Homo sapiens: one gene and its partners. The protein of the gene in region 1 purifies or fractionates together with the protein of each later gene. This does not show direct contact. Each region holds a gene or a part of one and is shown in the gene's direction. Other genes may lie near its edges.

Region 1 (3,500 bases):
GACATTTACTTCAGGGATATGCCCAAGGATTTGCTTTTGTCCTTCTGGACACTTTGTTGTTGAGCAAAGGTGAATTCACTCTCATTTTGGGTAAATTGTTGTTTAACAGCTTCCTTAAACAGGTTTTTGTATCTTACGGATTCTGGAGGGAAGTCATATATTTTACTCTATCTGTCAGGTGTTCACTGTAAGGAAGGGGATTTTAGATATAGTGGTTATGTCTTTTAAAAAGTTTCCTAGGATTTCAATCCGTGTAGATGGAGCTACACTGTACTTCTCCTAAGCCTTGGCCATTTTATCTTAGGTAATATGGACTCTTCAGGGGGGGAAAAAAGGGGAAGGGGGGCTCTTGAATAAAATGGGTAGCCTTTTCACATATTGACATCTTCAGTATTAATTTAGAGAGAGCGATACTAACTTCTTCAATGAAAAATTATTTATGGAAGAGATCCAGTGTATACTTCTAATATTTCATCAGTATTACGTTAAATTGCTTGTAGATTAGAGGTGCTTCTTGTCATAGTGAATGGAGACTAATACCTTAAGTCATTCCTTTCTAGTATGATGATTGTGGTTGCTCTTACTGAGGACTATAAATGTGGATTTGGTTGATACTTTCACGTTTCTCCTTGGACATTGCAGATGGAAGTCATAACCCCAAATGTCTTACTTATCTGCAATTTTGCTCTGAGATATGGACCAGGCTCTAGCAGACCGTCTGCCACTGTGTAGTTAGTGTTGCCTGATTAGAAATAAACCAAGTCCTGCCTAAATTGGTCAATCTGTTTTGTTCCGCGTCCACGCAGGATCCACTTACAGAAAGCCAGTGGCTGCTTTTAACCACTATCGAAACCTCAGTCCTTTGTAAGTACTTTCCTTGGAGCAGAAGGTTTAAAAGCTCATGACTAAACACTCATTTTGGAACTCAAAATAATCTTAGAGAAGTTAGTGGGTTGCTCAGAGTCCCACGAGCTGCTTATGGGCTGCGTGGAAACCCAGGTTATTTCCCCATAAAGCCTCACTCCTGCTGCCCCTCTCTTCTGAGAGAGAAGCAGAGAATGTCTAATTGAGTCACTCTTACTCACTGTCTGCAACGTAAAACTTTTTTTTCTACCATTTTTTTTTGTACCCTAGAACCATTAAAAAAAAAACCAGTCTGGATCCTATATCCGTCTCATGATCTCCCCCAGAGGAGACCTCTTCGGCCTTTTAATACACCACACATGCCCCAGGGGGACGGTGCAGTCACTACCTGCTGCCACTTCATCCACAGGCCATCTTCCCCTCAACTTACTCCTTTCTGCTTCTTACATTATGTGCACGTGGTTTCCTTTATATGCCAAAAAGTATATGGCATGCACTGAAATAACTTTCTTCATAAAACTAAACTTTAGTTTTTCTAAAATTTAAGTTAAATCCTTGTTTTTCTCCCAAAATGCACAGTGGTTGGGGGCTGGGAAGCTGGCGATGGTGGGTATGTGTTTGAAAAGAACGCCAGCTGGCTTTAGACTTATTTGGGGGCTATAGAGCAAGCGGAGCAGTCAGGCATCCCACCCACCCCTGAAATGCTCGGGGCCCTCTTGGCAGATCCAGTGTGCACGTTGTCGTGGCAGGTGGTGGATGGAGAGCTTTTATGCCGATTTCTAGCGTTATCTGGCTTATTGGTTTGAGAGCTGCATACAACGGGATGTTTAATCTTTTTTATTTAAAATTACCATTTATAGTATTTGGGGTGATTTAGAGGATTTAAAAAATCTGTTAGATTCTGAAGTAGTCCTTAAAATATGGAACATAAGTGCTTAAGATGCTAAAACACTTTCTAAAGCATACTATTGGGATGTTTGAAACTGATGTTGGTAAATGTAAACTGTGTGCATTTGTGTTTGGATAATCTGTGATAAGTTTAGTTTTTGATGAGACACAATTTTAATTTCACATTTAAAATGACATATTGAGGTCAATAAGAGCAGGTTTGAATTTACATTTTCCAGAGAAACCCACAATTAATAGGTAACTTTTATTTTCATAATGCTTTTAATTATTACACTTACGTAGATTCAGAAATGGATATATTCCTAAAATAAACCAAAATTAAAACTTCTTTGTCTTTTTAAAGAAAAGCTGTGGTTCTATTAGAGAAAAATACTTCTTTTTTAAGTTTATGAAGAAATAGCTGTTAGATAAAAACTTTTCCTGGTTGAGCTTTCTAAATTACAAATTTCCTGAATTGCATGGCAAAGTGACTTTGAAAAGACCCACTTCATTTTTCCTTTGACAGTCTATTCAAAACACCATTACCACGTAGACTAATACAATAACCAAGGTAAATAGTAACAAGATCTAATGGGGGAAATAGTGTATCAAAAGGGGGAAAACAGTATCCACTGACAGAGAGAACTAGCTGTTTCTTAAAGAGACAGAGAAGAAAGGTTTCCTCGGAGTTATTGGGTCTTCATAGGATGGTCTCCTGTCCTTCTCTGAGCTTGCCTTGGAAACTGTAGAGGCTGTAGGAATATTTGCTGTCTTTAACCCTTACTAATGTTCTCAGCTATTTCATTAGAGGATCACAGTGTCTGTATTTGCCTTAGGTGTAAGATGATTGGAGAAAAGGAAAATGTAGAGAAATCAGATTGACTTTAGATGGACAGGCAGAGAGTTCTGGAGTGACTTCCCACTCCTTAATTCTGCAATGCACCCAGAAGGCAGGGTGAGGTTAGATGATCACCTGGGTATTTACTATAGCCATTATTACTGTGATTAGATAAAGTGTCCTGGAATCTTCTCTGAATAACTCATTTTTCTTTTTTTTTTTTTTCTTTTTTTCGTTTTGCTCTGTCGCCCAGGCTGGAGTGCAGTGGCGCAATCTCAGCTCACTGCAACCTCAGCCTCCTGGGTTCAAGCGATTCTCCTGCCTCAGCCTCCCGAGTAGCTGGGATTACTGGCACCCGCCACCATGCCCAGCTAATTTTTTCGTATTTTTAGTAGAGACAAGGTTTCACCATGTTGGTCAGGCTGGTCTTGAACTCCTGACTTCGTGATCCACCTGTCTTGGCCTCCCAAAGTGCTAGGATTACAGGTGTGAGCCACCGCACCCGTCCTTTTTTCTTTTTAGACAGTCTCACTCTGTCGCCCAGGCTGGAGTGCAGTGGCGCAATTTCTGCTCACCACAACCTCTGCCTCCTGGGTTCAAGCAATTCTCGTGCCTCAGCCTCCCTAGTAGCTGGGACTACAGGTGTACGCCACCAAGCTTGACTAATTTTTATATATATATATATATACAATATTTTTTTTGACAGAGTCTCGCCGTGTCGCCCAGGCTGGAGTGCAGTGGCACGATCTCGGCTCACTGCAACCTCCGCCTCCCAGGTTCAAGCAATTCTTTTGCCCCAGCCTCCAAAGTAGCTGGGCCTACAGGTGCCGCCACTATGCCCGGCTAATTTTTTTGTATTTTTTAGTAGAGATGGGGTTTCACTATATTGGCCAGGCTGGTCACAAACTCC
Region 2 (3,500 bases), on another chromosome or scaffold:
AGCTCCTGGCCAGTTACAATGATGAAGACATTTACCTCTTCAACTCCTCTCACAGTGATGGGGCCCAGTATGTTAAGAGATACAAGGGCCACAGAAATAATGCCACAGGTGAGACTGTCTTCCTAGGTTTCTTTGGCCCAAGCCTGTTGGCTTTGGAGAACCACAGTGTCTTACTCAGGTTATACAAATAGAAACTACCTGCCTGTGTTGCCATGGGCACTGAGGGATTATCCTGAATTGGGCTGGAGTTTTCATGTTTTCTCCGCTATGCTAGAGGAGAAAGCGCTCAAGAGCATCTCTTGCCACTCCAATAATGTTGCTTCTAATTGGTTTGGACATAAGGAGGCTAGACTAACTGTTTTTAAGATTTCAGGCAACTTCAAAAGAAGCACAAATGCCTTGTTAGGGAGTCAGGGAAAGCCCTCTTTAGTCAGTGGTCCTGAATTGCTTAAAATAGGGAGTGACCTTATACCTCTAGGAAGGAGGAGTAAACAATTCTTTTAGATGAGGCAGAAGAGGAGGAATGGTGGTAGTAACTAGCCCAAGATTGGCCTGTTTTGTTCCATGTCTGTGGTTCCCAAACTTTGGGGCACATTGAAATCATCTGATGTGTTTTGTTTTGTGTTTATGAGACAGGATCTCACTCTGTTGTCCAGGCTGGAGTGCAATGGTGCAATTATGGCTCACTGCAGCCTTGACCTCCCAGGCACTGCAGCCTCAACCTCCCGGGCTCAGGTGATCTTCCCACTTCAGCCTCGTGAGTAGCTGGGACTACAGGTGCATGCCTCTACACCTGGCTAATTTTTGTATTTTTTGTGGAGATGGGGTTTCACCATGTTGCCCAAGCTGGTCTCTAACTCCTGGGCTCAAGTGATCCGCCTGCCTCGACTTCCCAAAGTGCTGGGCATGAGCCACCAATCCCAATCCTGGTGTTCTTTTAAAAATAACAGTTTGGCCTTAACCCCATATATTCTGATTTAATAGGGATGGACTGCAACTTGAGCACTGAGATTTTTAAAAACTACCCACATGATTCTAATGTCCAGGAAAGTTGAGGAATCATTTCTCTATTGTTACCACTCCTAGCAGATACCTGTCATGATTTTGTCTTGGAGATAGCAGTTAGAGGTTAGTTTTATTTTTTTTCCTGAGCTGGTAAGAAGGGAGGGAAAAATCTGTTCTTGGATCTCAGTACACAGGCAGATAAAGGAAGGGTGCCAGTCTCATGGCCAATATTGTACTGACCATAGTCATTGGAACTCTTGGCTTCTTTTACTGATTCCGGAGAGTGGAGCCCTGTTAATGGTAGCAAGCACAGATCACTTGCTTCTCGAGGCAGTTGTGGCATATACCTTCATCAGTCTCAGATCAGCTGATGACCCAGAAATATTGACAAGGTACCAATGAAGTCCACATATCAAAGATAATCCTAGGCCATAAGACAGTGCTGCCTAAGAGTAGGCAGAGCTGGGATGATTCAGGGTGGGACAGGTAAGAGATTAGAGAGGCCTGTGGTTACTTGATAGGGTATAAACTTGAGAGACTAAGGCTGCTGCTAAAGGACTGCAGATTCCTCTGCCCTAAGGAGCGAGCTCTTTGGGAGAATATAAATCATCTCTTGGGACTGGTGTGATTCCTATAACTATCTGTTAAACATGCATAATCTAGCTGATTTAGAGTTTGTGAATAACTAAATTCCCTTTGAGATGAATGTATATAGGCCTGATGCCAACCCTCATGTGGTTTCTTCCCTCATTTATCATTTCAGTAAAAGGCGTCAATTTCTATGGCCCCAAGAGTGAGTTTGTGGTGAGCGGTAGTGACTGTGGGCACATCTTCCTCTGGGAGAAATCATCCTGCCAGATTATTCAGTTCATGGAGGGGGACAAGGGAGGCGTGGTGAGTATGGTGTGCTGAGCTGGCTGGCTCCCTAATCTCTCCAGTCATTAAGGTAGGTTTTAGCAGGGACACTGAATTCTCACTGTGACTACATGATACCATGTTTTAGAGGTCCAGCCAGCCATAAAAGACTAGTTAGCCTGGAGGTGCTGAGTTTTTGATGGAGTATTTTCTTCCTGTTCCTATCTTCTGTCCCTGTAAAGCACAGTTTATTGAGACAAGAAAGGGATCTTAGGGAAGAACCTCTGTCCTGTCCTGAGTGATGTAACTTATCTCTAGACGTGCACCTTTTCCAAATGAAAAAGCGTTAGTGTTCAGGGCGTACCCTCCTACACAAGGCTAAAGATTTCTCCATGTCTCTTCCCTTTAAACTAAACTAAGTAGTGATCTTGGCTGGATCTTAGATTAGCAGATAAAAGCTATAAAGAGCATTTTTTGGACAGTTGGGAAAATTAGAATATGGTTTATACATTAGATAACATGGTATTCAATATTAAATTGATTTGATTACTTAGAATATTCTTGTACTTAAGAGATACATGTTGAAGTATTTAGGGGTGAAATGTCATGCGTACATTCAAATAGATAACAAACACATATACATGTGTACATATAAGGAGAACGCAAATGTGGCAATTGTTTTTTAGTAGCTGAGCAGTCTGCTTGCTGTATAACCCATGATCGTATCATAGTCTGCCTGGCCTTTGAGTTCTGCAGCCCTCTGTGGAGTTAGGGCAAAAAGGAAGAGTGAGAATCGAGTTAGGGAATGAAGAGCAATCAGCTCTTAAGATGTATCTGGTTAACCTTATCTTTTTTTTTTTTTTTTTTTTTTTGAGACCTAGAATTAGGAAGGAGTTCAATCGCTTTCTGTTACAAGGTTTTTGGACCACAGGAGATGGGAAAAACACAGTTTGGAAGACTAAATTATACTGATTGCCCAGAATAGTCTGGTTATCCAAGGCCTCTAAGGAATGACTGAGACAGCTAAGTCTCTCTTCCTTTTTATTCCTTCTTAGCTGTGGGGAACTTCAAAGAGCCTAGCCATCTCTTGATGAGGTTTTTTCAGAGAGTGGTTTTAGAATTTAGAATGGTTCTTTGCAATCAGGATCCCATTCCTTATGTTTTTCTTGCCCTGGTGAAAGGGTATTTCAAATTTTCTTCTGGTTTCCTCTAAATTTCAGGGACCTGGGACCTGCATAGATCTAGGGTTTTTATGGTTTGAATACAAATGGAGAGGAGTCTAGAAGTTCAAGGTGTGTCTCACTCTTCCCTGCTTCATTTCCAACTCTTCCATAGGTCCCCCTGTGTCATCTGCAGTGAACAAACCCAAAACACTTGAGTCTTAATGGGAATTATGCAATAGGCATTTAGAGAAAGGAAGTCAGAAGGGGCCAGTGAATTTTTTCTTGACATAAGCTATTGCCTTGCATTCTGTTCCAGAGAGATGCAGGGCTGAATGCCCTCTCCCAGGCCAGCATTTGTCCATTCTCCAAAAGCATTCTGCAGGCCAGTTTGCTTTTAGCTCAGCCAATGCCAGGGTTTGATGATTAACCCATTTGCCCAGGTGAGGAAGGCATCTACTTGGGATGGGTGGGCCCCAG
Region 3 (2,377 bases), on another chromosome or scaffold:
CCTCCCGGATTCACGCCATTCTCCTGCCTCAGCCTCCTGAGTAGCTGGGACTACAGGCGCCCGCCACCATGCCCGGCTAATTTTTTTGTATTTTTAGTAGAGACGGGGTTTCACCATGTTAGCCACGATGGTCTCAATCTCCTGACCTTGTGATCTGCCCACCTCGGCCTCCCAAAGTGCTGGGATTACAGACGTGAGCCACCGTGCCGGGCCAAGACTGATTTCTTGGAACCTATTCATTGGGCCAACATAACTCTTGCCACAATAACTACTGTGTATGGAAGACAGATTCATTGATGAATCAGATAGTGCACAGCACTGGGTCTTTCTTTAGTGAGTGGCTTCTCCTAAACTTGGTTTAACATTTAAGTAGGTATACTCTGAGGGTACTTGGTATTAGGCTGGAACTTTGTGACTACAGTAGAGAGAAACCATGGATTAGAGTTTGTGATGTGATTTCCATACTCCACAGTGAATACAATTTCATACAATGGACAAATACAATTGCAAACAAATACAAAAACAAAATAAAATTTCATACAACAAACTGAAGTTTTATCAGTACAGGAAGAGCTCTTCCTGTGTCCTGATTGGGATTTAAATCCTAATTTTCTTACTTCAGAGTTCTAGTAAAATATCTTTTATAAGTGACAATTCCCAGTCTGGGCAACATGGTGAAACCTTGTCTCTACTAAAAATACAAAAATTAGCTGGATATGGTGGCGTGCGCCTGTATCCTCAGCTTACTTGGGAGGCTGAGGAGAAGAATTGCTTGAACCCGGGAGGCGGAGGTTGCAGTGAGCCGAGACCACGCCACTGCACTCCAGCCTGGGTGACAGTGAGACTCCGTCTCAAAAAAAAAAAAAAAAAAAGAAAAGAAAAAGTGACAGTTCTAACTGAAATGCAAACATCAGGATCCTTGGGAATTAGGAAAATGGGGATAGCTAGAGATGGTGGTGAAAAGTTGGATTCTGGAGTCCCACAGCATGGGTTTTAATCTAGGTTTTAACCCACATAATAGCTGTGACCTTGGATAGAGTGCAAGGATAAACAAAACAGTTGGCCAAATATTTTCTTTTTTGGCCAAATATTGTCATTTGGACTACTTGTACAGGAGATTGATACTGAAGAACATTTTGGCTCAGAGTAGACCTGGTTAGCTTATCACTTTGAACTTCTGATTTCCAGATGCTGGCTATGAGTTTGACATCTGCTTCACCTCAGTGCAGAAGAGAGCGATCCGGACCCTCTGGACAGTGCTAGATGCCATTGATCAGATGTGGCTGCCAGTGGTGAGGACTTGGCGCCTCAATGAGCGGCACTATGGGGGTCTAACCGGTCTCAATAAAGCAGAAACTGCTGCAAAGCATGGTGAGGCCCAGGTGAAGATCTGGAGGCGCTCCTATGATGTCCCACCACCTCCGATGGAGCCCGACCATCCTTTCTACAGCAACATCAGTAAGGTATGGACAAACAGAGGTTTGGTCACTCCGCCCAGGATCAGGGGCTTTTAGTAGTGTCTGCCTAATCTCACTGAACTTACAATTCATGATAAAATAGTTAATTGTAATCCTTCCTTCTCCAGTGAATGACCTTCACTTACTAGAAGATATGGTTGATAGTTTACTATCTCCTTTTTTGTGTTTCCATAGTCAGATTTTATAAAACCCTGTGAATGTGAATGGGCCAAAATCGATACATCATGAAGTCTTTTAACAGATGTAACTCTTAATAAGTGGTGAACTTGGATTCTTTATTGCTTAGGATCGCAGGTATGCAGACCTCACAGAAGATCAGCTACCCTCCTGTGAGAGTCTGAAGGATACTATTGCCAGAGCTCTGCCCTTCTGGAATGAAGAAATAGTTCCCCAGATCAAGGAGGGGAAACGTGTACTGATTGCAGCCCATGGCAACAGCCTCCGGGGCATTGTCAAGCATCTGGAGGGTATGTATGTTTTTTCAGAGGCGCCCTCAAGGAAGGATAAAGCAGAACTGCCACAAATCAGGGACTTGGTAAAAAGGAGTCTAGGGAAGGGCTGGACATGTTAACAGCTTTAGAGATGGTCTAGATTGACTTCTAGTGAAAAAACACCCTCAACCCTTGTTTCTCAAAATGTGATCTGCAGAATAGTGACAGCTGGACCCCCTGGGAGCTTGTTATACATGCAGAACCTCAGGTCTCACTCCAGACCTGTTTCAGAATCGGCATCTATTCCCCAGGTGATTTGGATACACATTAAAGATTGAGAAGCTCACCTCTAGATTGGTATTGTCAAATGAAACTGCTAGTGAAAATCCTCCTTAGCTTGCCAAGCACAGTGGCTCATGCCTGTAATTGCAACATTTTGGGAGGCCAAGGCAGGAGGACCACTTGAGG
Region 4 (3,500 bases), on another chromosome or scaffold:
AGAGCTCCAATGGGAAACATGTTTTCATATTATTACCCAAAGGGAACAATTTCAGGAAGGAGTGTTTTGTTGGCTTCTTTTTTGTAATAATTTTATGGATTTTTAAAAGGATGTAATCTTCTTAAAGCACTCTGTGAACATCCATTGCAGTCTGTTCCTCATGGCAGGGAATCCATAGACAAGGAATGCCGGTATGACCAGCCTGACGTGAAGGCCTGGCTGTTGTCAGCGTAACCTCTCTAGGTGCAAACATTAGCAGGGTTGTTGCATTATTCTTAATGCTTCTATCTCTGGAAAGAGTTCCACAGCAAGGCAAGTTTACACAGTTGGCCAAAATCAGGTCTCAGGACTTGGCGTAAACTTCATTTGTGGCACTTCCACGTCTCTTCTCCTGCCATAGCTATCTGAGAATTTCCCCTTAATAGCTTCTCTGACCCAGGATTCTGTATGATCCTGCATTAGCTCCACGGGACTATAAGCCAAAGGACAGCATGACTATAGGCAGGTCTCTGGGGTAAAAGTAAATTGTGGCCAGGCACAGTGGATCACGCCTGTAATCCCAACACTTTGGGAGGCTGAGACAGGAGGATCACTTGAGGTCAGGAGTTCGAGACCAGCCTGGCCAACATGGTGAAACTCCATCTCTACTAAAAATACAAAAAAATTAGCCTGACGTGGTGGCGCACACCTGTAGTCCCAGCTACTTGGGAGGAGGCTGAGGTGGAGAATCACTTGAACCTGGGAGGCCGAGGTTGCAGTGAGCTGAGATCGTGCCACTGCACTCCAGCCTGGGCAACAGAGTGAGACTCTATCTCAAAAAAAAAAATGTGAATTGTGTGTTCAGATCATTTTCTTGGGGCATAGAAAAATATTGAGAGCCAGAGAAGTTGGACAAGAGTATCTGAGACCCAGTCTATCTTCCTGGTGTGAAAATTTACCAGTTTCTGATAGAATCTGATCTTGTGTATCTTTTTTGTTTTCTGAGGTATAAAAACATATTCCAGAAAAGTCTTCTAAGACTTAATTCACAGGAATCCTGTAGAACAAGATATCTTTGTCAACATGAAGTCCTGTAGGGAAAACTTGGTGTAATATGGGAGCAAATAAGAATAAATGTGTTTTATCATTTTTCCAATAAGCAGGTGTTTGATTTCATTGCACTGCTGGTGCATAAATGAGAAATAATTTCAAAATCGCTTTGCCTTGCTTTTTTTTATGTGAAGATGAAAGGTTGAAATACCATAACATGAATCTTTTGTGAGCTTTGGTATTTATGTATAAAAGTGGGCACAAATTATACACTTGAACAAAAGAAATTCAGGGAGGAACATGGTGTATGATTTGTTCTACTTCAGTCTTTGAAACTTGTTTCATTTAAAATAAGCTGATTTAACCATTGATTGAACCCGAGCTTGCCAAGCACTCCCATCAATCACAGCCCTGTTCTGTACTTGTTCCCTCGCCTCCCTCCTCCCTCGTCACAATCCAGGCTCAGCGGTAGCGTGTACAGGAGGGAGAGCCAGAAAGCCTGGGTTCAGATTTCACCTTGGCCACTTTCTGTTTATCTGTGCAATGAGGATGGTTGTATTAGGTTGGTGCAGAAGTAATTGCTGTTTTTGCCATTACTTTTAATGACAAAAACTGCCGTGACTTCTGCACCAACTTAACAGTATCTACATCTGGGGTTGTTCTGAGGCTTACATGTGTTAATGGTTAGCACTGAGAGCAGCATCTGGCATCTTGTAAGTGCTCAGTAAAAGTTATCATCACCATCAGCAGCAGCATCATATTCTCCCTCTAAAATGTGTGTCCACAAAAACAACACTTTGATTCCCCATTTAATCTTTCATCCCAAGGGGCCATGGCAAGTTGCTGTAGGGATTAACAGTGGGAACACAAGGAATGATTAGGACTCCTTTCTAAAACTCCCACCCTTGCAAATAGTAGGAATAGCTCTCTGTGGAGTCTGTTTCCTGGCAGCCTCTTTAAGCTCAGCTGTTTTTAGCAGCTGAGAACTTGGAGAATTAAGAGTGTTCCAGAAGTGCTGTGACCTCAGCTTTGCTGCATCATTCCTTTGAGTGGGGTTAGGCTGGCGTGGCTGGTGAGGAGCTGTTGTCCCAAGGCTATGTAATTCTTGGTGTGGGGAAGAGTCATCATGTTTGGTTGATGGCAAATTATTGGGAATAAAGAAAACTCAGGTTTTCCAGCTAAGAAATACAGAATTTTGTGCAACTTGGAACCACAGTTATTTATTTCACAAACACTTTCAAAGCACTCTGTGCCAGGGGTGGTTCTGATTACTATGCATTAGGTTACTGTTATTATCCTCATTTTACAAATGAGGCAACAAAAGTAAAAAGGACACCCAGATGGGGACATGGCAGAGCCAGGCCTTGAACTCAAGGGGTTTGATTACCATCTGTATCAGTTCTCCAGGATAACTGGAGTTCTCCAGAAAAACAGAAAATCAGTTCTCCAGAAAAACAAAACCAATAGGATTGGTTTATGCAATTGGAGAGGCTGGCAAGTCCCATATCTGTAGGGAAGGCTGGCAGACCGGAAACTAGGCAGGAGCTCATGGTGCACTCTTTACTTAGAATTTCTTCTTTCTCAGGGAAAACTCAGTTTTTCTCTTAAGGCCTTTTAACTAATCATATGAGGCCCACCCACATTATCAAGGAAAAATCTCCTTTCCTTAAAGTCAACCACCCAGCCTGGGAAACATAGGGAAACTCCATCTCTACAAAAGTTAAAAAAAATTAGCCAGGTGGGGTGGCACATGCCTGTGGTCCCAGCTACTTGAGAGGGTGATGTCAGAGGATTGCTTGGGCCTTGGAGGTCAAGGCTGCAGTGAGCTGTGATTACACCACTGCACTTCAGCCTGAGCAACAGAGCAAGACTCTCTCAAAAATTAAAAAAAAAATAAAGTCAACTGATTATAGATGTTAACCACATCTACAAAATACCTTCACAGCAACATTTAGATGAATCTTTTATTGGATAATGGTACTATAGCCTAGCAAAGTTGACACAAAGAACTAACTAGGCCAGGCACAGTAGCTCACACCTGTAATCCCAGCATTTTGGGAGGTCGAGGCAGGAAGATCACTTGAGGTCAGGAGTTCGAGACCAGCCTGGTCAATATGGCGAAACCCTGTCTCTACTAAAAATACAAAAATTAGCCAGGCATGGTGGCATATACCTGTAGCCCCAGCTACTCAGGAGGCTGAAGCACAAGAATCACTTGAACTGGGAAGGTGGAGGTTGCAGTGAGCCAAGATCACACCATTGCACTGTAGCCTGGGTGACAGAGTAAGACTGTTTCAAAAAAACAAAAAACCACAACAACAAAAAAAGAAAGAAACCCTAACCATAAAAGGATCCATGCCTTTAAACAGTACCTCAAGCTGAGAACCTTATGAGTTGGGTGTGAGATTCACAGTTAACTAAATAATTTAGCAATAGGCTATCCCATTACAAAATGCTGCACCTTACCTTGT
Region 5 (3,500 bases), on another chromosome or scaffold:
TGGCTCACTGCAACCTCTGCCTCCTGGATTCAAGTGATTCTCCTGCTTCAGCCCCCTAAATAGCTGGGATTTCAGGCGCCTGCCACCATGCCCAGCTAATTTTTGTATTTTTAGTAGAGATGAGGGTTTCACCATGTTGGCCAGGTTGGTCCCGAACTCCTGACCTCAGGTGATCAACCCTTCTGGGCCTCCCAAAGTGCTGGGTTTACAGGTGTGAGTAACTGCGCCCAGCTGATTGAAAGATTTCTATGCTGTATGCACCTGCTCTACTGAGAAGGTCATGGAAAAGACAAGAGTTCAAAGGCTGATAGAATTCTGGAACTTCAGGGAGGGATAGATTAAGATCCTGCATGGTTTAGGCCTTTGGACACAAAACTATAAGCAGTAATTGTTAATATCACTCTAGCAGTTGAGTAGAGGACTGACTCAAGGTGTCAGAGATAAACACAATCGGACATTAAAGTGGTGAAAACAGATTTTATTCAGCCTACTGACAGTAGGGGAAAGAGCTAAACTCCAGTCTGATTTGTGGAGGGGTAACTGGGCCTTTTAAAAGAATGAGGGGGCTGGGCCTGGTGGCTCACGCTTGTAATCCCAGCACTTTGGGAGGCCGAGGCGGGCAGATCACGAGGTCAGGAGATGGAGACCATCCTGGCTAACATGGTGAAACCCCGTCTCTACTAAAAATACAAACAAAAATTAGCTGGGTGTGGTGGCGGGCGCCTGTACTCCCAGCTACTTTGGGAGGCTGAGGCGGGAGAATGGCGTGAACCCGGGAGGCAGAGCTTGCAATGAGCCGAGATCATGCCACTGCACTCCAGCCTAGGTGACACAGCAAGACTCCATCTGAAAAAAAAAAAAAAAAAAAAAAAAAAAAAAGGAGTAGAGAGGGATTTAAGCAGAGTTAGAGAAGTGAAAAATTACATAAAGTAGGAAGTGGGGTTGGTCCATATGAAACCCATCTGAGTTTGCCAACTGGCGCTTATCAAAATCAGGCTCCCACAGAGACAGAGACAGGGGTCCTATCTTCATCTTGAGGCGTTGGCTGGAACAAACAGTAAATTTTTTTTGGCAGCCTTAAGTTTTCTTAGGCGGACACTTTAAGGAGGGATCAGGTCCTCCTAGGAATAAGGCCTTGAGCTATTTGAAACTTGTGTTTGTTCAAATCTTTATAGTCCAAGGTTGAAGGCTTGTGAAGAAGAGGTCTCAGAGGACCCTAGCTAGGGTTTGGTCAGGGAGAGAATCTTTTGCCCAAGAGGTAGACTATTTGCAAGGAGATCAGACTTTTTTTTTTTTTTTTTTAGATGGAGCCTTGCTCTGTCGCCCAGTGGTGCCATCTTGGCTCACTGCAACCTCCGCCTCCTGGATTCAAGTGATTCTCCTGACTCTACCTCCCGAGTAGCTGGGATTACAGGCACACGCCACCACATCCACCTAATTTTTGTATTTTTAATAGAGATGGGGTTTTACCATGTTGGCCAGGCTGATCTCAAACTCTTGACCTCAAGTGATCCACCCACCTTGGCCTCCCAAAGTGCTGAGATTACAGGTGTGAGCCACCGCACCCAGCACAGATATTTTTACTTACAAGTTTTGGAAAAGGATAAAACCTTCAGCTAGGGAAATGAAAGTGAATAAAAATTTGCATAACTTGACCAATTAGAAATAGATCAGGAATAGGCCAGGCGCGGTGGCTCACACTTGTAATCCCAACACTTTGGGAGGCCGAGGCGGGCGGATCACGAGGTCTGGAGTTCGAGACCATCCTGGCCAACATGGTGAAACCGTGTCTCTACTAAAAATCCAAAAAATGAGCTGGGCGTGGTGGCAGGCGCCTGTAGTCCCAGCTACTCGGGAGACTGAGGCAGGAGAATCACTTGAACCCAGGAGGCAGAGGTTGTTGCAGTGAGCCGAGATCACACCGCTGCACTCCAGCCTGGCGACAGAGTGAGACTCCATCTCAGAAAAAAAAAGAAATAGGTCAGGAATAAAGAAAACACTTTTCTCTTGCTTTTCAAACTCAGGAACTAATAGATATGAATTATTGGATATCCAAGCACACCTTTGTTATTTATTTTATGAAATTTAGAAACCAAATATAGATTTGGATAATGCAGATCCCTCTGAATTTGGTCTGAATTCAGAAACCAAATAGATTTAGGTAAGGATACTTTTAAATTCGGTACACTTCTTCTTTTTTTTAATTAACTCCCTAAGATTCTTGACAGTTCCTCTGTCTGCTTTCCTCTCATATATGAATTGCTATTGATTAGATTAATATGTAACCTTTTTTGTAGAAGACCCTGATAATCCTACTTTGTTCTAGGAAATATGCCTGTTATAGCAATTTCTTTAGGTAATTTCATCCATTGTGTGAATTTATTTTCCAAATCGGGGACAGAGGCAATATCACTGTATTCATTCTAATTGGTTATTATAAAAACACCTAGTAATATCAATTATTGCTGCTAAAACAGTTCAAATCTTTGTGGGGGGGAAGTCACCATCCCTTATTTTAATGCCTTATGATTTCATAGGAATTAAATAGTAATGATTTTTTTTAACTTTAGGAAATAACTGAAATCATGTTATGGTTTGGTGAATTATTAACAGAATCTTATTAGAAGAATTTAGGCTTCCAAAGAAGCTGGAAGTTATTTGAAATTAAATTATAGATGTGTAAGTTACTAATAGTCACATCACAGCCTTGAAATTAGATACTGAGGGTTTTGTTTGTTTATTTATTACCAAATCCATCAAACTCTTTAAACTGACTTTGGTCATTGTTGGCTATTGTTTGTCATTCTTTTAAAGGACACAAATTAATAACTCTGTGTGTGTGTGTTGTTTTTTGTTTTTAGGGTCCACCAAAATATACTAAATCTGTTCTGAAAAAGGGAGATAAAACCAACTTTCCCAAAAAGGGAGATGTTGTTCACTGCTGGTATACAGGAACACTACAAGATGGGACTGTTTTTGATACTAATATTCAAACAAGTAAGTCTAAATGGAATCTTATGTTTTTGGCTTAAAGAGATTCTAAATACTTGGGTGGCAGACAGATGAGTAGTTAGCAGTACCTTTTTCCTGACTGTCACCTACTTTCATCCAGACATACTTTCCCCCAAGATCTACTTGGAAGAGGTCTTCAGTTCACTGATTATTGGCTGGCTAAAGACCTCTTGTTCTTTGGAAAGCAAAAGATAAGGAATCTCAGTCTAAACCTGGTTAATGTCCCAAAGTAAGGCATTAGTATTTGAATAGAAAAGGCAGGATAGTATGCTGTTTTGTGATATAAGTATAGGTCCTACCCCTCTACCCTTTGTTAAGAATGTAATTATTTTTACAGCCAGAATTTTATTGATGGATGATCTTTGTAAATTTTTTCCTTCTTTTAAAATACATAGTATTGTAATTCTGAAATCAAACCACTATATTTTTCCACTGGAATTTAATAATTTCCAATGGAAATTTCTTAATAATAAATTAGAGTATATCAT
Region 6 (2,176 bases), on another chromosome or scaffold:
TGATCTGTCATGCACCGTCTGCCATGATACTGTGTGAGGATGTGTTCTTCTTCTTAAACATTAAATCAAGAAAGAATCAACAGTGGACCCAGTAAATAGCAGATCAGCCTAGGATAAGATGCCCTAGAAGATGGTGAAGGGAAGTCTCAGAACTACTGTTCTTCAGCAGGCAGCGAAGACACCTGATCCATATTGGAGTGGTGGGATGCGAGCTTCAGGAAGGGATGCCACAAGGAAAAGTGGAAGGGATGATGACTGTCTTCAAGAGGTTACAGGTCTTTAAGAATTTACACGTGAATTGGAGATAAATACAGAGAAAATGAAACACATCAGTAATTCAGTAGTTACCAAGCCCAGAAAGACCAAGTCATACCATGTAGTAAATATAACCAAGGTGCACCAAGGCATTCAACTGTGACTAGTATTAATGGCGTAAAAAGTAATGCCAGCGCTGGAGACTGGCTTAACAACAACAAACACCACTTCATCAGGAGGATGGGTCGGGGCAGGTGCTATGTAAGTGGTAAAACAGCTGTTTGTATCCTTCACTGAAGAATTTATTAGATTTTTATCTAAAATTATGAAGTAGGCCAGGCACGATGGCCCACTCCTGTAATCCCATCACTTTGGGAGGCTGTGGCGGGCGGATCACTTGAGGTCAAGAGTTCGAGACGAGCCTGGCCAACGTGGTGAAACCCTGTCTCTACTACAAATACAAAAATTAGCCAAGTGTGGTGGTGGGTGCCTGTAATCCCAGCTACTTGGGAAGCTGAGGCAGGAGAATTGCTTGAACCCAGGAAGCAGAGGTTGCAGTGAGCCGAGATCATGCCACTGCACTCCATTCTGGGTGACAGAGCTGGACACCCTCTCAAAAAAAAAAAGTAAATAAAATTATGAAAAGCATGTTATTTAGAAATAGGCTAAATACCAGAAGAAGCTGCTGTGTGAGTCAAAAGTGACTCCTTCCAGAACTTGGGAATGGGAGGAGGAAGGGGAGAGAGACAGCTCCAGAGGAGTCAGTTACATGGCTTCCTCCCAGGCCACTCCTAGAGTCGTGCACTAGGTGTGCCCTAGTTACAAACCTTGTCCTGTCAGTATTTGACTTTTTAAATGATGCATACGTATTGCTTTGATAAAAACAGAAACAAAGATTGTTCTGAAATTAGTAACATCCGTAACTTCAAAGATGATTATTACAGGTGACAAAGGTAATCAAAAGTTATTTTAAACTTTTGTCTTTAAGCATTGAAATGATATTACTGTCTGTCACGACAATCTTTTCAATTTGGAATTCTTCTTTTTTTCTTTTTTTCAGTTTGTATGCCAGAAGAAGGGTTTAAAGGTAAGTTACATTTGTCATGTTTTGTTCATGAATGTCAGAGTCATCCTGTAATTTTCTGTTAAAGCGAAGGCTATAATTTGATTTTAAATTTTAATCCAATCTGAGTCTCATGACTGAAATTAATTTTAGTTAAATGCATTTCTTACTCAAGCTTCTTCATTATCTTTTTCAACACTCAGGCCTCAAATGGGGCCTCAGCTGGGGCTTTTGTGTTAGAACTGTTTCTTGCCAGATGTCCATTTGGCCTTCCCTTTCTCATTTTATGGGAGGTTGGGAAATTAGCTAGTGGCATTTCAAGATTTATTTTTAACCTTTTCCCAGTTCTTCCTATCAAGTCCCCTCCTAGAGCAAAACAGTGTGTAACTATTAAGAATTAGTGGCACAAGAATTTGTCAGGTTTTATCAAGTCCAGTGAAAAGATTTAATTAATCACTTAGCATTAAGGCATTTGTTGGATTATTACTTCAAGAGGAGACACGGTGGTGCTCGTACTACATCTGGGCCATGTAGTTGTGCACACCGATAATATTCAAGAAGTCATCAAATACAGACCTCTGACGTTTTCGGATTTTCCTGTTGCTGTCTTGATTCTTTGCTGGCCACTCCAGAAGCCCCTGGCAGGTTGTGATTTTCTAAGGAATGACTTTGAATCACATACCAGCTATTCCTTGCTAAAGCAAATGAGAGACAAATCTACTGGCCAAAATAAAGTCTTCCTCTTGCTGCAGCTGTGTTGTCTGCATGCTACCATTACAAAGGGACTCCTGATGGGGTCAAAACAAAGCAAAAAACGTCTTTATGAAAAATGGTCATTGGCCGGGCATGGTGGCTCAC
Region 7 (3,500 bases), on another chromosome or scaffold:
CTCAGATAACTCTAATCAAATTGTAATGTAGAAAACTGGCTTGTCAAGACAGTTTAGAGATCTGTTCTTTAGCATCTGTTGAGTATAATTTAAAAAAAAAATCCAAGTTGGAAATGACCTGTAAACCCATCTAATTAGGCACAATAAGATATTAGGTTATTTTTAATTATCCAAACTTTATTAAAGTCCTTTAATTAAGCCTGTTTTATTGCTGCTAAAATGTGGACACTAGCTAGGTTAACAGGCAATGAAAAATGTTCATTTCCTGCTTTTGCATTTTCTTAGAGTAGCTTTAAATATATGCCACAGTGTTCTTGATAACATCTATTCCCTCCTGTCTCATCATCAGAGACCAAAACTGTTAGAATATTTGTATTTCGGTTGGTAAAAAGTAATGCGGTTTTTGCCAATAAAAGTAATGGGAAAAACTGCAATTACTTTTGCACCAGCATAATATCTTGATGTTTTCCATCATCTTCACCTGTTCATATTGCAGCCTAACGTCTCTGAATAGCACGTTTTTATTAATCCCTAACCCCCTCACAATTCATGTATCGCAAGTATAGTGTCTTAGTAATTTGTGTAGACTCACTATGGAGTTGGATGACATAAGGGGCATCCAGTAGGATTTGCCTCCCTCCGTGTACACTCATCCAGGACTGCACTGTGGAAGATGGAGTACAAGACAGGGTCTTTACCTGCACGGTTGTGGTCCAGTAGGGAAGCCGAGTATGGGTACTTGAAAGATAATTCCACCCTCTTCATTTGTCTGTTTCAAAAACCTTGGGTGAGAGTCTGTTAAGGACCAGGCAGGAGATATGTAAGCATGTGTGTGCTGTCATCGACGTGAGCATGTGTGTGCTGTCATCGACGTGCGTGTGAACAGAGGTAAGCCTTTCTTAACCTGGTTACCGGTGTTAGTCACTTTGCAGAGTTCCTTCACTTTCTATTTTCCCTTCCTCCCTCCAATTCCTCCTTGGAAGAATCGGCTACACTTGCCCCTTCTTCCTTGCTCCCACTTGGGTGGCTTACCCCTGCCAAGTCACAGCTGGCAGTGGGAGGCATTGCCCACCCCAGTGGCTATGCTAGAAAAGAGGTTCATTATTGACTCCTGTCACCTTCTCAGTCCCTAGGTCTAGGCAGCTTCTGCCATCACTGGCATCCCCACCTGCCATCTCTTGGCCTCATCTCAGCAGCACTTTGCATTGTAGGCCCTCCTTGTTCTCCCAACAGACCCTTCCTTGGCATCTGTGATTCTGCTGGCTTCTGGGTTTTCCCTTCCCGCGATCACTGTGGCTCCTGCTGCTGACACTGCCTCCTTTCTGCGCTTCCCTGCCTAGGGATGTCTGTGTTCCTTGGGCTCAGCCTGGGCCCTCTTCTCCTTCTGCACTCTCAAAGGAGGTGTCATCCCTCCCAGTGGCCTGACTTCCATCCAGGTCTCCAGCCCAGATCTCACATTTTCATTTCTGACTTTCCACCCCACTGTGACTCAGAGATGGAAGACTCGTGCCCCTGCCCCAGACTCCTCTTCCCCAGGGTCTCCAGTGCAGGGAGAGGAAGCGTTGTCTGCCCTCTTGTCCACAAAAGAAAAGGAAGTTGTGTTATTGACAGCTCCTCCTCCCTCAATCCCTAAATGTAGTTCATTAGCAAATCCTCTGCATTCTGCTCCCAAATGGCCCTCACTCTTGCCTTTTCTATTCTCTGCCCATAGCCAAGACCATGGGTCAAGCCACCATCACCTCTTGCCTGGATTGCTGTTGCTGCCTCAGCCTCCTCATCAGCCTCTCCGTCTCAACCTTCAACCCTTTCCAATTCATTCTCCCGCTATAGACCCAGTGTTCTTTCTAAAACACAAATTTGATATCTGTGTGTGCCCTTCTGCTTAAAATCATCCAATGGCTCCTCGTGGCTTGTAGGATAAAAAGTCTAAACTCCTCAACTTGGTTCCCAAGGCCCTGTGGTGCAGGTGGACATACATTACTGGCTTCATCTCCTGCTGTTCTTTCTCCTGCTGCAGCCTAGCTGACCTTTAGTTCTGTGTTCTTTTTGCCTCCTCTGTGTGGAACAGTCTCCAGCTGTTCCCCTGGAGAACTCCTGCTCCTTCGGGTCCTGCCTTGGTGTTCCTGAGTCTGACATAGGTCAGTGCGGATCTGCTGCCATGACTTATGGTATTTCTGCAGACCTTGTCCTCCTTAAGTGCCGCTTAGCTTGTCTCTATTCCCCATGAGATTACAGGCGATGAGGGCTGGGACCAAGTCTCATGTTGTTTCCATTCTGTCTCCTTCACAGCTCTTGGTGCCTGGCACCTAGTAGGTGCTCAGTAAATATTTGGTGAATGGACAAAAGAACTTTTCACAGTCTGTGTTCAGTCACTGAATAAACGTTCTCATTCCAGTTCTGCTCCCTAGCTCTTCCCTCTGTTTTTCTTTTTTGTAAGAGTCCTAGCTTTTGAGCTAGCCACTCAACCTGTTTTAAGATCTTTTCTTAAAATAGCACCTTAAAAAAAGAAAACCTAACTTGTCCATCAGTCTTAAGAATAGCACTCTGTAAAGTATCACGAATGGAATTTTTATAGTCAATGCTCCTAAAGTATAGGTGCGATAAACATGGTAGATGAACAAACATGGAAACATGAGATTTTACCCTTTAGAGGACCAGATGTTCTTTGCCTTTTTTAAAATTTACATTTTAAGGCTGGTTGTGATGGCTCATACCTGTATCCCAGCACTTTGGGGGGCCGAGGAAGGCAGATCACCTGAGGTCAGGAGTTCGAGACCAGCCTGACCAACATGGTGAAACCCCGTCTCTACTAAAATTAGAAAAATTAGCCGGTCATGGTGGCGGGCACCTATAATCCCAGCTACTCGGGAGTCTGAGGCAGGAGAATCACTCGAACCTGGGAGGTGAGGTTGCAGTGAGCCAAGATTGCGCCATTGCACTCCAGCCTGGGCAACAAGAGCGAAACTCTATTAAAAAAAATCAGTTATTAATATTAGTAATGTTATACAGCAGATAAAGGGAAATTTATTTGGAAACTGATTATAAAGTAGTTTAGGTCTAGGAGCAGTGGCTCACGCCTGTAATCTCAGCACTTTGGGAGGTCGAGGTGGAAGGATCGCTTGAGCCCAGGAGGCAGAGACTGCCAGATCACACCACTGCACTCCAGGTTGGGCGACAGAGCCAGACCCTGTCTCAAAAAAAAAAGTAGTTTAAAAAAAAGATTTTTTTTTTTGAGACGACATGTTGCTCTGTTACCCAGGCTGGAGTGCAGTGACACAATCTCAGTTCAGTGCACCCTCCACCTCCTGGGTTCAAGTGATTCTTCTGTTAGCCTCCCGAGTGGCTGGGATTACAGGTATGCAGTCCACCACTCTTGACTAATTTTTGTATTTTTAATAGAGACATGGTTTCGCCATGTTGGCCAGGCTGGTCTTGAACTCCTGACCTCAGGTGATCTGCCTGCCTGGACCTCCCAAAGTGCTGGGATTATAGGTGTCAGC

Evidence for each region.
Region 2: the proteins of BASP1 (region 1) and DCAF8 fractionate together in Homo sapiens (co-fractionation; one large-scale study listed by BioGRID). This does not show direct contact.
Region 3: the proteins of BASP1 (region 1) and PGAM1 purify together in Homo sapiens (affinity purification with mass spectrometry, with the first as the bait; one large-scale study listed by BioGRID). This does not show direct contact.
Region 4: the proteins of BASP1 (region 1) and DPYSL5 fractionate together in Homo sapiens (co-fractionation; one large-scale study listed by BioGRID). This does not show direct contact.
Region 5: the proteins of BASP1 (region 1) and FKBP3 purify together in Homo sapiens (affinity purification with mass spectrometry, with the first as the bait; one large-scale study listed by BioGRID). This does not show direct contact.
Region 6: the proteins of BASP1 (region 1) and USP48 fractionate together in Homo sapiens (co-fractionation; one large-scale study listed by BioGRID). This does not show direct contact.
Region 7: the proteins of BASP1 (region 1) and UPF2 fractionate together in Homo sapiens (co-fractionation; one large-scale study listed by BioGRID). This does not show direct contact.

What each region holds. Positions count from the first base shown.
Region 1 is NC_000005.10:17,224,131-17,227,630, forward strand, and holds part of BASP1 (brain acid soluble protein 1), read left to right. Parts: intron 1-3,500.
Region 2 is NC_000001.11:160,221,050-160,224,549, reverse strand, and holds part of DCAF8 (DDB1- and CUL4-associated factor 8), read left to right. Parts: coding exon 1-108; intron 109-1,768; coding exon 1,769-1,899; intron 1,900-3,500. UniProt on the Homo sapiens protein: May function as a substrate receptor for CUL4-DDB1 E3 ubiquitin-protein ligase complex.
Region 3 is NC_000010.11:97,429,191-97,431,567, forward strand, and holds part of PGAM1 (phosphoglycerate mutase 1), read left to right. Parts: intron 1-1,188; coding exon 1,189-1,463; intron 1,464-1,764; coding exon 1,765-1,945; intron 1,946-2,377. UniProt on the Homo sapiens protein: Catalyzes the interconversion of 2-phosphoglycerate and 3-phosphoglyceratea crucial step in glycolysis, by using 2,3-bisphosphoglycerate. Also catalyzes the interconversion of (2R)-2,3-bisphosphoglycerate and (2R)-3-phospho-glyceroyl phosphate.
Region 4 is NC_000002.12:26,851,132-26,854,631, forward strand, and holds part of DPYSL5 (dihydropyrimidinase-related protein 5), read left to right. Parts: intron 1-3,500. UniProt on the Homo sapiens protein: Involved in the negative regulation of dendrite outgrowth.
Region 5 is NC_000014.9:45,120,982-45,124,481, reverse strand, and holds part of FKBP3 (peptidyl-prolyl cis-trans isomerase FKBP3), read left to right. Parts: intron 1-2,861; coding exon 2,862-2,997; intron 2,998-3,500. UniProt on the Homo sapiens protein: FK506- and rapamycin-binding proteins (FKBPs) constitute a family of receptors for the two immunosuppressants which inhibit T-cell proliferation by arresting two distinct cytoplasmic signal transmission pathways. PPIases accelerate the folding of proteins.
Region 6 is NC_000001.11:21,679,974-21,682,149, reverse strand, and holds part of USP48 (ubiquitin carboxyl-terminal hydrolase 48), read left to right. Parts: intron 1-1,315; coding exon 1,316-1,342; intron 1,343-2,176.
Region 7 is NC_000010.11:11,924,310-11,927,809, reverse strand, and holds part of UPF2 (regulator of nonsense transcripts 2), read left to right. Parts: intron 1-3,500. UniProt on the Homo sapiens protein: Involved in nonsense-mediated decay (NMD) of mRNAs containing premature stop codons by associating with the nuclear exon junction complex (EJC).